2 linked regions of the Homo sapiens genome follow. The protein of the gene in region 2 interacts with the protein of the main gene of each other region in a pairwise test. Each region holds a gene or a part of one and is shown on either strand. Other genes may lie near its edges.

What was found.
Region 1: the proteins of PRDM6 (region 2) and TTC23 interact in binary tests that used the Homo sapiens proteins (3 or more experiments, as listed by UniProt).

The regions. Positions count from the first base shown.
Region 1 is NC_000015.10:99,155,220-99,163,022, forward strand, and holds part of TTC23 (tetratricopeptide repeat protein 23), read right to left. Parts: intron 6,649-7,803; coding exon 6,521-6,648; intron 1,079-6,520; coding exon 929-1,078; intron 1-928. UniProt on the Homo sapiens protein: Participates positively in the ciliary Hedgehog (Hh) signaling.
Region 2 is NC_000005.10:123,098,438-123,106,240, reverse strand, and holds part of PRDM6 (putative histone-lysine N-methyltransferase PRDM6), read right to left. Parts: intron 7,015-7,803; exon of another isoform or gene 6,704-7,014; intron 6,588-6,703; coding exon 6,280-6,587; intron 1-6,279. UniProt on the Homo sapiens protein: Putative histone methyltransferase that acts as a transcriptional repressor of smooth muscle gene expression.

The DNA of each region.
Region 1 (7,803 bases), on a different chromosome or scaffold from region 2:
GGTTAGAATTAAACTTAATAAGAAATATACAAAACCTATATGAAGAACGCTTTTGGATGTGCCTGAAAGATACAAAAGTAGGAATGAAGAAATGGAAAGATATCCCTTGTTCTTGGATAGAAAAACTCAATATCACAAAGTTGTCAATTCTCACAAGATTTATTTATAAATAATGCAATAAAAATACTAGTAAGCTCTTTATGGAGTTAGACAAATTGATACAAAAATTCATGTAGAAAAATAAACACGGAAGAATAGCTAGAACACCTGATATTCTAGTAAAAGAAAAGCCATAAGGGGTGTCTACTCCTATCACATATTAAATCATTCTATAAAATCTCTGTAATTAAAACTGAAATATTGACACATGAATAAACAGAAAGACTAGTGGAAGAGAAGAGAAATCTAGAAATAGACTTAAGTCCATAAGGAAAATCAGTATATGATGAAGGTGTTATCTGAAGTCACTGGAGCATAGATGGGCTCTCTAATTAAATGGTGCTGGACAACTGGGTGGCCATTTGGAAAAAAGGTAAGATTAGATCCATTCCTCATGCCATCCACACAAATAAACTCCAAATTTAAAGAAGAATGACAATTGAAGAAAGTGTAAGAGAATTCCTCTATAAACTCAGTATAGAGAGAGCACCGCAAACATAAAGGACTGATCAATTGTACTACGTAAAAAATTAAAAATATTTGCATAGTAAAAACTGATAATTCATTTAAAAAATATGTATGTCTAAGAGGCTTACTATGTCTTTTACCCAAAAAGTATCAGGTTAGATCTACCACAAAAGTGATGTCATCCTATCTAAACAAGCCACTTCTAAAGTTTCATTTAAAAGAACCACCACAAGGGAGAGAAATTGACCTTGGAGAGGGGAGGGAGAGCCTAGTCTCGTGTTAGTACTGGTTCCAGCTTTACCTTCTTCAGTTTCTTGCGGGCCCCACTGTGGTTCCCCTGCGCCAGGTCTGCTCCTCCCAGGAGCCGGTATGTCTCTGCCACCTCGGGACTGAAATCGCCAAATGCTTCCACTTTGGCTTCCAGGGACTCTCTCAGGATCGAGGTTGCTCTCTGTGAAAGGAACAAAAAGCTATCTGGTTAACAAGCTCAAAGGCTGATTAGGATCATTACGCAACTTGTAACATTTTCACATGGGTGTGGTAGTCTCACGAGCTGAGCCTGTTCTCCTCTTGTATTAGTCCATTCTCATGCTGCTATGAAGAGATACCTGAGACTGGGTAATTTATAAAGCCAAGAAGTTTAATTGACTCACAGTTCCACATGGGTGGGGAGGCCTCAGAAAACTTACAATCATGGCAGAGGGCACCTCTTTCATAGGGCAGCAGGAGAGATAAGTGCTGAGCAAAGGGGGCAAAGCCCCTTATAAAACCATCAGATCTTGTGAGAATTCAGTCACTATCGCAAGAACGGCATGGGGGTAACCGCACCCATGGTTCAATCACCTCCCACAGGGTCCCTACCATGACACATGGGTATTATAGGAACTATAATTCAAGACGAGATTTGGGTGGGGACACAGCCAAATCATATCACCTCTGGTTGAACAAGAGTCAGGAAACAACACGAATGTGAGGAAAGGTGTAAACTATGAAGAGAGAGGACACCTGGCAAAATAAACCCACTCAGCCATTACAGGAATCCATTTCAGTTGAGTAGTAAGAACAAAAGCTGACATGGATCAGTCCTCACATGTCACTAATTGTGCTGAACACACACAATTGTGTGGGTCTCATTTAATTTTTGCTGTCTTCTTTAGATGGGTAAAATTTTAATCCTCATTAGGCAGAGGAGGAAACAGGCACGGCAGTTAAGAAACTTGCTCAGAGTCAGAGGGCTCAGCTGTGGTGGTGCTAGGATCTGAATCCAGCCAGTGATCTTCATACCTTTTTTTTTTTTTTTTTTTAAATCCGTCTCACCGTCTCAGCAGATCTTCCATTTTACAACAGCAGGTGGAAATCTGGAGGTTTTTTTTTTTTTTTTTTTAGACAGAGTCTCTCTTTGTCTACCAGCCTGGAGTGCAGTGGCATGATCTCAGCTCTCTGCAACCTCTGCCTCCCAGGTTCAAGCGATTCTCCTGCCTCATCCTCCCAAGTAGCTGGGATTGCAGGCGCCCACCACCATACCCAGCTAATTTTTGTATTTTTAGTAGAGACAGGGTTTCACCATGTTGGCCAGACTGGTCTTGAACTCCTGACCTCAAGTGATCCACCCACCTTGGCATCCCAAAGTGCTGGGATTACAGGCGCGAGCCACAATGCCCAGTCTAATTTTCATACATTTTAGTCCCATGCTTTTCTCCCTCTGTCCACAATGCTATTCTTACAGAAGTGAAAATATAGCATTCCTGGGCAAATTATCTATGTATAGAACATCCTGAACACACTCCAGGCTTGGCTATTCTCATAGGAAATCGTTTAGGAAACTGAAAGTAAACATTCCAACATGACATGACATTTTGTTTGGTTTATCCAATTTATTTATACTAACATGGAATAAAAATTATGAATTGGTCAGGACATAGTATTTCCTGATATTAGCTTCTTCAGACACCAAAATATGCAGGGGGAAACCCTGTTAAAGTATGTCAATCCTCCATACTTTCTCCAGAAATTCTTCCACGATCTTCCACATGAAGGCACGACATCAGCTGCAGAGCATGGATGCTGAATTTAACTGGCAAATACAGCAGGGACCATGGGAGCTTCCTCATGACACAGCCCCAAAGGGGTCCCAAAAGTGCTCCACAAACAGAAGGACAAGGAGGGCGTTTAATCCTTTTGTTGGCAATAATACAAGTTAGGGGATAGGGCCGGGGTAGGGGAACCACATTACAGGTGCTGATGAGGCAGAAATAAATTTCTCAGGTGAAAGAGGAATCTCTGTAGAGGCAGAGTGATTGTGTAACTCAGCAGTGAGGCCCCACTGAGGTACATGAGGGACTAGAATTTAAATCTAGACTTGCCTGAGGGTAAAGCCCATCACATCTCCCAAGTTCTGAGAGCAAGGACTTGGACTGCTGAGAGTGCTGGGTTTGGTGATATTTCTGTGGGAAAATATCACTGTCAGACTTAGAGGAGCCAGTGATGGGGAGAAGACCCGGGGAGACTCCCTTTCCCAGATAAAGCTTTGGATGCCGCCTACAGCCTGACTGCGGAAACGGGGAGATGTGAAGGAAGTTAAATGGCACGGGTTTCTAGGAAACTGAGATAGTATCAACCTCTGCTAGGAAAAGCTTAAGAGAGAGGAGTGAAGAGTAAAGAGGACTTAGGTGGGATGAGAAGAGGGTATGGGCCACTGGGAGCACAGGAGGAACACATGGCCTGTTGAGGGCCAGTGAGTGGCCAGGCTGAGGAAGTCACAGAAGATTCTTGAGCAAAAGAGTGGCACAACTAGAAGACAAACCCTCACGGAGTAGCTTAACCTGTGGCAGAGTGACCTTCACTTACATTTTACCTTAAAAGGCATTTCATCCCTCAAATATCATGTTCCACAGTGCCCATGGCCATGTGCTGTGGGAACACCTGGGATGGCCTGAGCACAGCCCCATTCTTGGCTCCGGGACTGTCCCTGGGCCCGGCCCTTGTTGGCCAACACCTGCTAGAACCCACAGTGAGAGGTTTGCAACCAAATGGTGAGAACAGCATGAGACTGCCATGTTTGGCTGGGCAGGTGGTGCCACACACAAGGGTGCCTGGCAGGAGCATGGGGAGGGCTGAAATCCAGCCTATGGTCCTCTCCAACATGGGCGGTATCTACCTGAGGAAGGGGCAGCTTTTTCTATTATGATAAGGGCATTGGATGGGCTGGCAGTGGCCCTAGAATGAAAAGAGCCAGTTTGCTAAAATCTTCGAGGGCAGCTTAGGAGAGTGAGGTGCATCTTTTGATCAACACTGATCTGGGTGACTTGGGCAAGGGCAGTGAGGCATAGCATCAGTGACACTGAGCATTGGCTGACTCAGCAAGACACTATGGTGGGAAGCCAGGCAGTACAGGGGAACTGATGCATGGCCCACAGGAGTCAGAACAGTCAGCTGGCCTGTGGCCAAACATGCATCCACCTCTCTGCTCATCACTCCTCACCACAGGCAAGAGGGTCTCTGCTTTCACAGGTTCGGTCTAGTTGCAAGATAGATGTTAAATATCCACATGAATATATACTTACAAATATTTGATGACATCAAATGGATTCTCTAAGGAAGAATAATGGGGAGTATCTAATGAAGCCTGGGGAGAGGAATCAGAGAAGCTGGTAAGAAATGAAGAATGGGTTAGCATTGGCCTGGAGATGAATGAGGAAGGGCCTTCCAGGAGGAGGAAACAGAAGCTGGCACTGCCCGGAAGTGGGAATTAGAAAAGGCCAGTGTGGCAGGAACATGGATCAGGGAGAGGAGGCAAAAATGAGCCTGGAAATGTCAGTGGAGTCCAGGTCGTGGACGGTACTGTGGGCCATGTCAGGATTCTGGTTTATCCTGAGGGCATCGGGGAGCCAGTGGACTGGCTTTTACAAGTGAGTGTTCAGTGGTCAGATCTGCTTTTTGGAAACATCACCATGGCTTCCTTATTCTGAGTGGATTAGAAGAGGGCAAGCATGGAAAAAGCAGCTGAGAGATAGGAACTTGTTAGAGCGGTCCAGGCAAGAGATGATGAGTGGCAGGACTAAAGATGGAAAACAATGGATGCATTCAAGATCTATTTTGGAGGAAAAAATGGCTGAGGAACTAGATGGAGTGGGGCATGAGGGGGCAAACCTACCCCATTATTCTGACCTGAGCACTCCCCTTGTCTTCTAGAGATGTGAGGGGGGAATGGGGAGGGAGTCTGAGGCCCCTGGAAGGCCCCTCTCTCTCCCTGGGGTTGGGTGACTGAGAAACATCCTGAAACTCCAATTTGTCCTGGTGATTGTGGCCCTACTTTGGCCTGAGAAACATAGGTATATCGGCATAAAAGCCCGTGTTCCCTAGCTGACAGAAGGCGGGGGTGGAGGGGGGATTAAGGATGAGAAAAGAGCTGTGGGGGAGGAGGTCTACAGACGGTAAGGGAAATAAAGTTTTTCATTTCCAAGATTTGCCATGATAGGTTAGAGTTGAAAAAAATACATAGTCAGCCCTCCATATCCATAGATCAAAAATTATATGGGAAAAAACAATAAAAATAACAATACAACAATAAAAACAATACAAATAAAAAATACAGTGTAACAACTACTACCATAGCATTTACATTGTATTAGGTATTATAAGCAATCTAGAGATGATATAAAGTATTCAGGAGGCTTTGTCTAGGTTATATACAAATGTGACACCATTTTGTACAAGGGCTTGAGCATCCTTGGAGTTTGATATCCTTGGGGGCTCTGGAACCAATCCCCCACAGATACTGAGGAACAACTATATATATATGTGTGTGAGTGTGTATATATGTATGTATGTATGGTTTTCTAGGAAATTGAGATGGCGTTAACCTCTGATAAGAAAAGCTTAACAGAGGCCGGGCGCAGTGGCTCACGCCTGTAATCCCAGCACTTTGGGAGGCTGAGGCGGGCGGATCACGGGGTCAGGAGTTCAAGATCAGCCTAGCCAAATGGTGAAACCCCAACTCTACTAAAAATACAAAAAAATTAGCTGGGCATGGTGGCGGGGGCCTGTAATCCCAGCTACTCGGGGGGCTGAGGCAGAAAATTGCTTGAACCCAGGAGGCGGAGGTTGCAGTGAGCTGAGATTGCACCACTGCACTCCAGCTTGGGTGACAGAGCAAGACTCTGTCTCAAAAAAAAAAAAAAAAAAACTTAACGGAGAGGAGTGAAAAGTAAACAGGACTTAGGTGCGCTGAGAAGAGGGTGTGGGCATACATGCACACATACATATATACATATATATGCACACACATATATATAATTGTTCCTATCTGTGGGCGATTGTATATATATATATGTATTAATATGTACACACACACACATATATAAAAACATAAAGCAATGGTATGTTAGGCTTTGCAGGGAATGCATTCCCAAGGGTTTAATTCCCAATGAATATAAGGTCTGGGTCTTGCTCTATTTTCATAAGCCACGTAAATCACGCTTGTACGAATCAATACTAAACAACTGAGCTGTAACTTCTGCACCGTATAGTTTTCCTTAGACATGCAAACTCCATTCATTACCCAAACTGAGGAGAGAGGGATTAGACACACTAACTGCCACACTATTCCAGCCAGATCTGCAGGACTTCAATAAGCAGGGCCTGTCCACTATTTCTTTAGGATCTTTTGTAGGTGGGCATGACAATCTATATTCTCATAAAGTCTCCCAGCTTCTAAGAGCAAGTATCTCTGGAAGCTGCCCCAAAGGAGCCCTAGCCTTATTTATGTGTCCCTCTAGAGACTGGCACATGCTTTGCACACAGTAGATGCTTAATGGATGCTTGCAGAGTAAAGGAGTTGCCCTTTGGATATCAACTGTGAATAACTAGACAATTGTGATCCAAACTCACTTACCTCTTTTTGTCCAGTCATTTGTAGAAAATGGCAAAATTCATCTTGAATTGAAAGAAATTTGGTTCTTCCCATCCCTTCAGAATCCTTAAGATGAGCCATGCTCTCTTGAAAATACTGCTCAGCTACATCTGAAGAAAAGCATTTATCATAACTTTGAAAACTGCTCACAGATTTGAAATGGAAACAGAATAAATATACTGTTAGCAGTGTTGAGCTATTTGGAAAGAGGTATTGGGACAAGAAAAAACAGTTAAGACTGTCCTTTGCCCATTAATCTGCCTGTTTCATTAGAAAGGATTTAGGTCTTGAAGGATACCGTAATTTACTTTCTTTAATTTTCATACATCTAGCTTTCCCGGTGATACATAAAGAAAAGTTACTGCAAAAGAAGAAACTATGCCCCACATCTGAACACACTGGTAAGTTTTCAGGTTGATCAACCACTAATTCTTCCTATAACTTTAGTTATAGGGTAACTATGACTTTACTGAGGGTAGGACTCTGAAAGTTCACTTATTTTGATGGATTTGGAGTATAATCTTGGTACATATTTCTAAAACATGAAAAATCTGGAAAATATTGCTGACATGCCGCTGAGGGAAGAAATCATTCAAAACCCCAATCATTCCAAATACTTCAACATACTGGTTATAATATAACACAAATATTTTTAAATGCATGCCAATCTTGAATGCAAGAAAAAGAAAACCTCAGGTATGGAAAATGACGAGAGAACTAAAAGCCAGAGAAGTGAGCGGGAGCTGAGGTTGAATGGCCCGTAAGCATATTAGAAAAAAGGTCCATCTACTAGTACTGGGGTTTTCTAAGCCTGAGCAGGACTAGGGATGAAGCCTGAGGCTCATTTGTGGTGGAAAGCTGAATAGGACTCCCTGCAAAAAGCTGGTGTGGCCGGCAGAATTCTAAGGTGACCCGTGGCCCTTGCCCTTGTGTAGTCCCTCCCCTGTGGTTATGGATGGAACTTGTGAGTATGAAGATATAGTTCTCCTGAGATGAGCTTATGTTATAGGGTACAGCTGACTTGAAGAAAACGAGATTATGGCCGGGGGTGGTGGCTCACACTTGTAATCCCAGCACTTTGGGAGGCCAAGGTGGGAGGATCGCTTGAGCCTGGAAGTTCAAGACCAGCTTGGTCAACATGGCGAAACAAAAAATAAACAATACCAAAAAAAAAAATTAGCCAGATGTGATGATGTGCACCTGTTGTCCCAGCTACTTGGGAGGCTGAAGTGGGAGGACTGTTTGAGCCCAGGAGGTTGAGGCTT
Region 2 (7,803 bases):
AGCCCGCCACACATAGATTGCTCTTCTCAGTTAAACCTTGGCCAATTGATTCCAGCCAATAGTGTGCTGTCAGTACTTTACTTACTGCTCAATCTCACTAACCTGACATTTATGGTGCACTGATTGGCCTCTGTCAGTGGTGCTGGTTGTAAATTCACTTTGAAAAGCTTTGTGTTAACAGCCTTCAACCAGGCTCCAAGAAGAGTACGAACAGGCAGCCTGACAATTGCTCGACCTCCTGCCCTTATTACAGTGAGTAAATCAGGGTTTGAGCCATTAGGCTGGAGCCTGGGGCCTACACAAAAAGGATTGACATGACGAAAGGTCAACCTCTGTCACACATGTGTAACAATTTGGATAATGGAATTCTGTAACTTATTTGAGTGAGGTGGCAAATGCTTACAAGGAAAAGTATATTCTGCTCTGGCTTCTCTGACTTTTATGCTAAGTACTTATACCGAAGTCTGTATTTCCTGTGTAAATATACAAGGAATGTCTGAACTAATGAAATCTTGGGGTATATACGATCCTAAAAAAGAATGAAAGAAAAAGAACGAAGGAGGCAGGCTCATAGTTGTTCTACATATAGGGTTCTTTAGAATAGCAAATGGTTTTTCCCATACTACCAGTGTATTAAATCCATCTTCTGAGACAAGAGGACTTTGATATTGTAGGCATATTCCCCAGCTGAGTAATGTGTAGTTTTTCATATTCAATCACAACAATTTTTAATCCATATTATACTACAACTGTAAGTGATTTCTGGGTAACACAATAGATATTCTCAAATTAAAACTGCTTTAATTTACACAGTGAAATAAGAAGATTCCCCTGCAGGCTTCTTGGGACCAGTGTTATGGTATGACATTTCCATCAGATCACTTGCTGCCAGGCAGTGACTGGGGAGGGCAGGTTTCATTTACCCACTAACCTCTGAGATACTGATTTCTCTTTTTATACCTTACTTTTAAGTCAGTGTGGGAAAAGAAAAAAAAATTACATGGTGTAAGAAAATATGCAGTTATGGACCAGTAAATATTTGTGAATTATTTTCTTCATATTGAGAAAATGCTATTGATAAAAGAAGCAATTTGTAAAAATAGATAAACTGAACTAATGAGAAAAATAATCCGGTGGATACAGAACTCATCAGTCTTTATAAAGTGTTTGCAGCTAAAGCACTGTAGTGTCACATGCATGTTGGGATTAAACCTCACTGATGTGAGAATGTCCAAATGGCTGTTATAATTTTTTTTTAAAGCAGAATTATTCTCGGACTTAGAAAACCAAGGGTGGCACTGTGCAGCATGATACATAAACCAAAAGGACCAGAACTTTAAATGGACATTTTCAAAGCAACTTAAAGTACTAAGTTTTGACTTTTAACACAATGCTGGAAACCATTCCAAGAGGTGGCAGATGGTTTTACAGTTTATGTAAAACTACAAAATGCTCACACTCTATCAAATAGGCACCACTATAAAAGACATCTTCAAATCAAATGAGGCAAAGCCAGAGAGATACACCAGCTGTTACTCTGCATAATTTAAAACATAATAGTAGCATTACTATGGTTTATTTTTAAGGAGAAATTATTTGAATTTCACAAATTTGACATATTCAAAACCAAACTGACAGGCAGACTATTATATTAAATGATAAATTGCTGAAAAACATGATTTTTACTTCAATATAACTGCGACAGCTACATAATTCTATCCCCTAGTGTCTTGGTGAATCACGCCAAAATGAGCCAAAGTCTATAAAGCAGAATATGGAATATATAATTACAGTACTATCACTGCGACAACTTTTAAGTGATTCTAATTTAATTGAAAATGATTAATTTAAAATAATTTTTTCAACATCTAAATACATATAAGTGGGTATAGTACTGTATATATGAAATTGAGTCATTTATAGAAACATACATAATATATTTAAAATATGAAATCAATTCATTTTCTTCTAGAACCAATTACCTATGATGGTTTTGAAATATAAACATTTAGCAATGTGTAATATATTTTTAATATTGGTTTTCATTAATATATTTTGACTTAAGCTAAGCAGTAATGATGAAAAATAGACCATTTGCTTAACAGCAAAACTCTTATTAAATCTAAAATATTATGGCACAAAACCAAATCACAAAAAGGCTCACATTATGTTATCCCCCTTGATTTTCTGAAGAAAAATAATGAAGGTTTCCACATAGTGCAAATGAAAACGAGACACTCAAATTTACTCAGGCAAAGAGAAGACAGGTTCTGTAAAATTAAAGCCCTTTCTAGTATCTTAACTGTATTACTAACAAGTCACTACATTATTTCAATTAGCAGGATAATTTTTCTAGGGTGAAAATAAGTGCAATTTATTTTGTCATTCTTGCTAAAATTTCTTGTCAAGTCAGGCACTGAGTTGAAAGGCCTGAGTAATTCTAGCCTATCTTAAACTGTAACCTTATTTTAAACTTCCGTATTTTATTCCAGTAGAATTTTAAGTATACACTGGGTACATTCCTCAGGTCCAGTCATATTAAATTCTGATGTTAAGCAGAAAGAGGAAACCGTGTGCAACTAGATTAATTTATCTCAAGAGAAAGGGGGCACATTAATAATTGAGATAATGTTTTCATAAATGTTGGAATCAAATGTGCCTTTTCACTTCTTTATTGGAAAACACATTAGGATAAAATTATCTCATTCTCATCAATAAGACCTAATTGCTGAGAAAGATTGTTTTCTTTGGAAAACATTGAGAAAGATTTTATTTCATATGATGTCCAAATAGCTAGAAATGTATCATGCATCCAAGTCTTGGAATAAATATATATAACCAAGGCAAGTCATTGTCTGATGCACCTTGTAATGTTTTGTTTTAAAGTATCTGAATTTATTATTGTTTAAAAAACACATTAAAATTCTGATTCTAAAAGAAACTAGCAAAAATAAATGACTAATTATTTGGCTTTTAGCTTGTAATCTTCTTAAACTATAAAAAATAAAAAATTACCTTGGCTTATTGCAAAAAAAGAAAAAACAACTCTCTTGGAATTTCCCATAAATACCCAGAAGAGTCAAAATGTACTGAATATAATGAAATGATATTTAACTTCCTTTAAATTGCTGTATTTTGAAGAACTATGATTATACACAAAGAAAATATTAACTAAAACAATGATTGCATGCTTACAAACCAAACAAGCTCTCCATGGCTGATGTATGTTAAATAACAAAAAGTCATTTTTCTACAAAGAAAATAGAGCTTCTAATGATTAAATAAAAGGAGTAACTAAGGTGAATCTGATTGTTTCTGTAATAAGCCTTCATGTGTATAATAAAGTACAACCATACTAAAAACAATGAAGTGTAAACTGAAACAAAAATCCATCATCTACTTGGAAATAGTGACAGGAAAAGATTAGCAATCCATTTATTGTACTGAAATAAAGATAAGTAACCCTGGTAAGATCCATCAGGACCTGAGTATTGAACTTGAAATAAAAAGACATTTCTTCATCAGCAAATGACTTGAAAAAATGTGAGGAAGAGAAATGATTACAGTTGCCTTTTAAAATAAAATAATCATGATTCAACTGCTTTTAATTTTTTTAATACATTTTGTTGACTTGCTATTCTGGAAGACATCTAAAAGAATAAGTTTTTGAAATGGATAATTATTACATGAGTCATTAAACAATTATTGCCAAACATTTCCGATAGACCTACAATGTATTCTACTTACTGATTCTAATGTGAATAATATGATGATTTTTTTAAATTTCAGAAGAAAATTTAGCTTTGAAAGAAAGAACTAAAATTTAAGGAACAATCTAACATTTGGAATATTGTATTATAAATGTAACAATTCAAACGGTCATGTTTCATAAAAATAAATCATAATGCTTAAAAATTTTAAACTCATATTCTATATCTTAAAAATCATTATGCTAATAAAAATCTGAAACCTATTTTATAAAGTAAGTATTTTATTTTACAAATGGATATTGGCACTAAGTTACCTGGCCCCAGTTAGTCGCATTTCACGTGATCTCCCAGGAGACTGACACATTTTGTATGGCTAAAGTTTTAAAATCCCTTCAATTCCCAAATGTACCTTATTCTAACTGTTGTTACAGATAATTAAAAAAAATAGATTATGTCCTGAATTTAGGAGTTGGATCCTGTAGATCATCCAAGCATACACCCAGCAAGTCTTTTTTCTAACAGAGAACCAACTCTAAGAACCATCCCAGCACACTCAACTCACATGCCCTGAACAATAGATAAAATTCACTTTATATCTACTGAAGTATCAAGAAAAAGAAAAACACTGACTAAATTCCCCAGTCTCTTTACTACAACAAAATTTTAACTTCATCAAGTACAAGTAAAGGTAGAAAAGAAAGGTTTCATAGTTTTCAGTGTTAATATGCATTGTTATAGTCTATATGTGTAGTGGCCTCCTGCCAACATCCCAATCATTCAAAGCCTTCTGGGGGGGAAAAAACCCACAATGAACTATGAGATTTTTGTTCATGTTTATGTCTTTGTCCCCTGGCACTCTAAAAATAGATAGGCATCAAAGGGCAATATAATAGTGTTCAGTTTTAACATTTTCAGGTAGAGTAAATTTGTACTATTGAACAATTGCTGTACGATTTTCTTAGAAAAATATTGGCAGACCTTTAACTATATGATATTAGAGTTCCTAATAACACTACTGGAACATGAGAAGTACCTAAAAGTGTTTTATAAACTTTAAACCACATTGGAGGTTACAATTAATTAGTCAGAAACAAAAACCAAAATGTTTCCAAACCAGATGCTTTGAGCCGGGGCACTCCAGCAGATAACTATAGGGTAGGTAGTTCATTGGCTTCCACGTCCTCATTTTGGGCTGCTGGGCTGTAGACTCATACACTCAGCTCCTCCTCCATCAAAAGAGGCTTTGCAGACACAGGCCTCAGGACCCCATCCCCAACAGTCACAGGAGGGTTCCGGATACCAGGTCTGTTTTTCATACTGTATCTCCATGGCCTAATATAGTGCTGGCCAGAGTGGGCACTCATCAAAAATTTGAGTGGATTAATGAGTCCCATGAGCTTTATTTAGTGAATATAAGGCAGCTCACAGTGAAAAAGATCATTTTGACAGGCCAGCAAGCCAAGTATGAGAGGCAATCTCTTGCAGAAACGATGCATTAATGGAGCCCAGGGGTTCATGTCAACCTGACCCCTGGCATTTAAGAAACTTTATTTTCTAGCTATTCCTACTTTATTATACCACTTGCCCAGTTAGTCAGATTTACATATTGTTTAAGGGTATGACTTCTGTCATCTTGTATTACATAAGCAACTTTCCATGGATGGAGGTGGCTAAGATTGGTAGGGGGATGACCTAATGATAGGCATCTATCTCTTCAGAAGTGAACCTCAATAATCCACCATGATGTTTTGGGAGAAACCTCAGGCTGACATTTTTCAAATAGGTTATTTTTAAATAATTGCTTCAGGTAAGATTGTGCCATTAAAGTATTACCCTCAATTGGGTTACACCAAAGTGCTCACACTGTTCCCATGTTTTGATTTTCCATATTGATGAAGATTACATAATTTCCGTTCATCAGAGAAGCAGCAGAATTTGCGATTTCTGATTCCCAATATAATTTGCTTAATTTGGGCCCTTTGATTCCCAATATAATTTGCTTACTTTGGGCCCTTTGAAAGTTGTGAAACATGTGATCTCTCACGTTCAACTTTGACAAAATTGTTTTTATCTGAGAAAAGGGGCCAGCCTCTCCTTCCTCCCCTCTATGCTTCTGTTCCTTTCTGCTCACTACACAGAAACACACTGGAAGTGCTTGGAATGGGACATAAAGGTCACCCAGCTCAAACATTCTAATGCCCACCCTCCGCTGCTCCATCTCCTCAGCTGTTTTCTCTTTTTCTCAAAATTCACAGAGACCAACGGTCAAATCCATTCCAGCTGGAATGGAGGCAGCTTAAGGTGACTCTGTCTTCAGACACCTGTAGGCTGTTTCCCTGGCTGGGTTGCTATTGTGTCAGTCCCAGCTCTGTCAGCCTCCTTACTGCAGGTGCTTCAGACACCAGGCATCTACAGGACCAGAGAAATCTATTCTCCGCTACCCTCTGGGGGCCAAGGGAGGCTCTCTTCGCAGTTGCCACAGCCAAAGGCCAGGCTCCCTGCCGGCCAAGGCTCCCTGCTGGCCAAGGCTCCTGCTCGGTGGGGAGGCGCTGTGCAGCCGGCCACTTACCTCCCAGAGATGCTGCGTGTTCCTCACGGCGCCTGCCTGCACCTTCTCTGGGGGCAGAAGCACGCCTTGGAAAGGTCCAATCCAGGTGCCTTGCTGGATCCTCTGCGCCGCGCAGATGCCGTAGGCCAGGCCGGGCACAGTACTGGTGCAGAGGCACACCTCGCGAGGCAGGTCCCGCAGCCACTCCGGCAGCTCCGGCGGGGGCGCGGCGGCCGCAGCGCTGCTGGTGCCCACAAGCCGGCGCAGCGAGTGCAGTGGCCCATGCATAGGGCACTCGCCGTTGCGGTTGTCCGCGCACATGTCGCAACCTGCGGGAGACAAGAAGGAGGAAGGGAAGGGAGCGGGTTAATCCGGCCGCCCCGAGCGGCCCATCTTTGAGTAAACTCCCGAGACAACAGCATCACCGCCCGCCTGGGTAAGCCACCTTCGAGGAAGGTGATGCCTTGGGGGCACCGAAGCAACTCAGAGGAGGAGGAGAAGAGAACCCGCGCCGCTCCCTTGGAATTCGCCGCACCCAGATCTGCCTGGTACCGGGCCAGGACTCTAGGCTCCCCAAAAAGCCTTCGGATCTGGGCGCAGATAGCATGTCCGCTCTCCACGGAACCGACAGTTCCAGGCTTCTTCCTCCCGTTTCAGTCTCTCTGCATCTCTCCCTCTGTCTCTGTCTCTCTCTCTCTCTTCCCTACTGTCTCTCGTTCCTTCTGACCCTCTCGCCCATTCCTGAGGTTTCTATCTGGAGTTTCAGGATGTGTTTATCCTTGTATTGCGAAAAAAAGCCCGTCTCTTGCCCAATCTGCTGTCTCGAAGAGATTCTATACTGGTCGTCTGGGTATTCAGCTTTCCTCTTTTTACAATTACACAGGAGACGATTTAAAATCACCAGACGGGGCGGGGTGGGGGAGACGGCCAGTCTATCGCGGGTGCCATTCGCACTTCCTTCGACCCAGAGACTCGGAGGCTTCCTCGACTGCCTCCCAAACGCCACGGGACGGGGCAGAGCAAGCCTGCAGCCCGGTAGAGCAGGAGCCGCAGCCCCAGGACTCCAAGGGCGCGCCCGAAATGGGGTCCCTCAAGCGACCAGTCAGTTCTCCCTCCAGGCACTGAAGCAGGGCGGGGACAGGTGGGGCGGGGTGGGGGACCGGGGTGCTGTTCTGGAGGGTTTGGTGTGCACGCTCTCCCTAGACGCCGGAAGAAAGGAATAGCAAATTTAACGATCAGCCTAATTGTTAGAGAAGGCACCAACTCCTGCCCCGACGGCTGTTCTCCAGGCTAAATGCGATTCTGTTGTGCTATACAATGGGTGAAGCTGTAGATAAAGCTGTCTCTCTCCGACACTCTCCAAAGCAGCCTGCGCGAGAGGGACCCCCACCCTCCGGGCCGGGCGGTAGTGGGCGCCCAGTATCCCTCCACTCGAACTGGGCTGGAAGGAGGCAGGCGGCCACGGGAAATAGAGCCTGTGGCGACTGCGCTGTCGGATCGCAGCGCCCTCCGGGTTATTAATGGGCCTGGAGGAGCCGCCGTGTC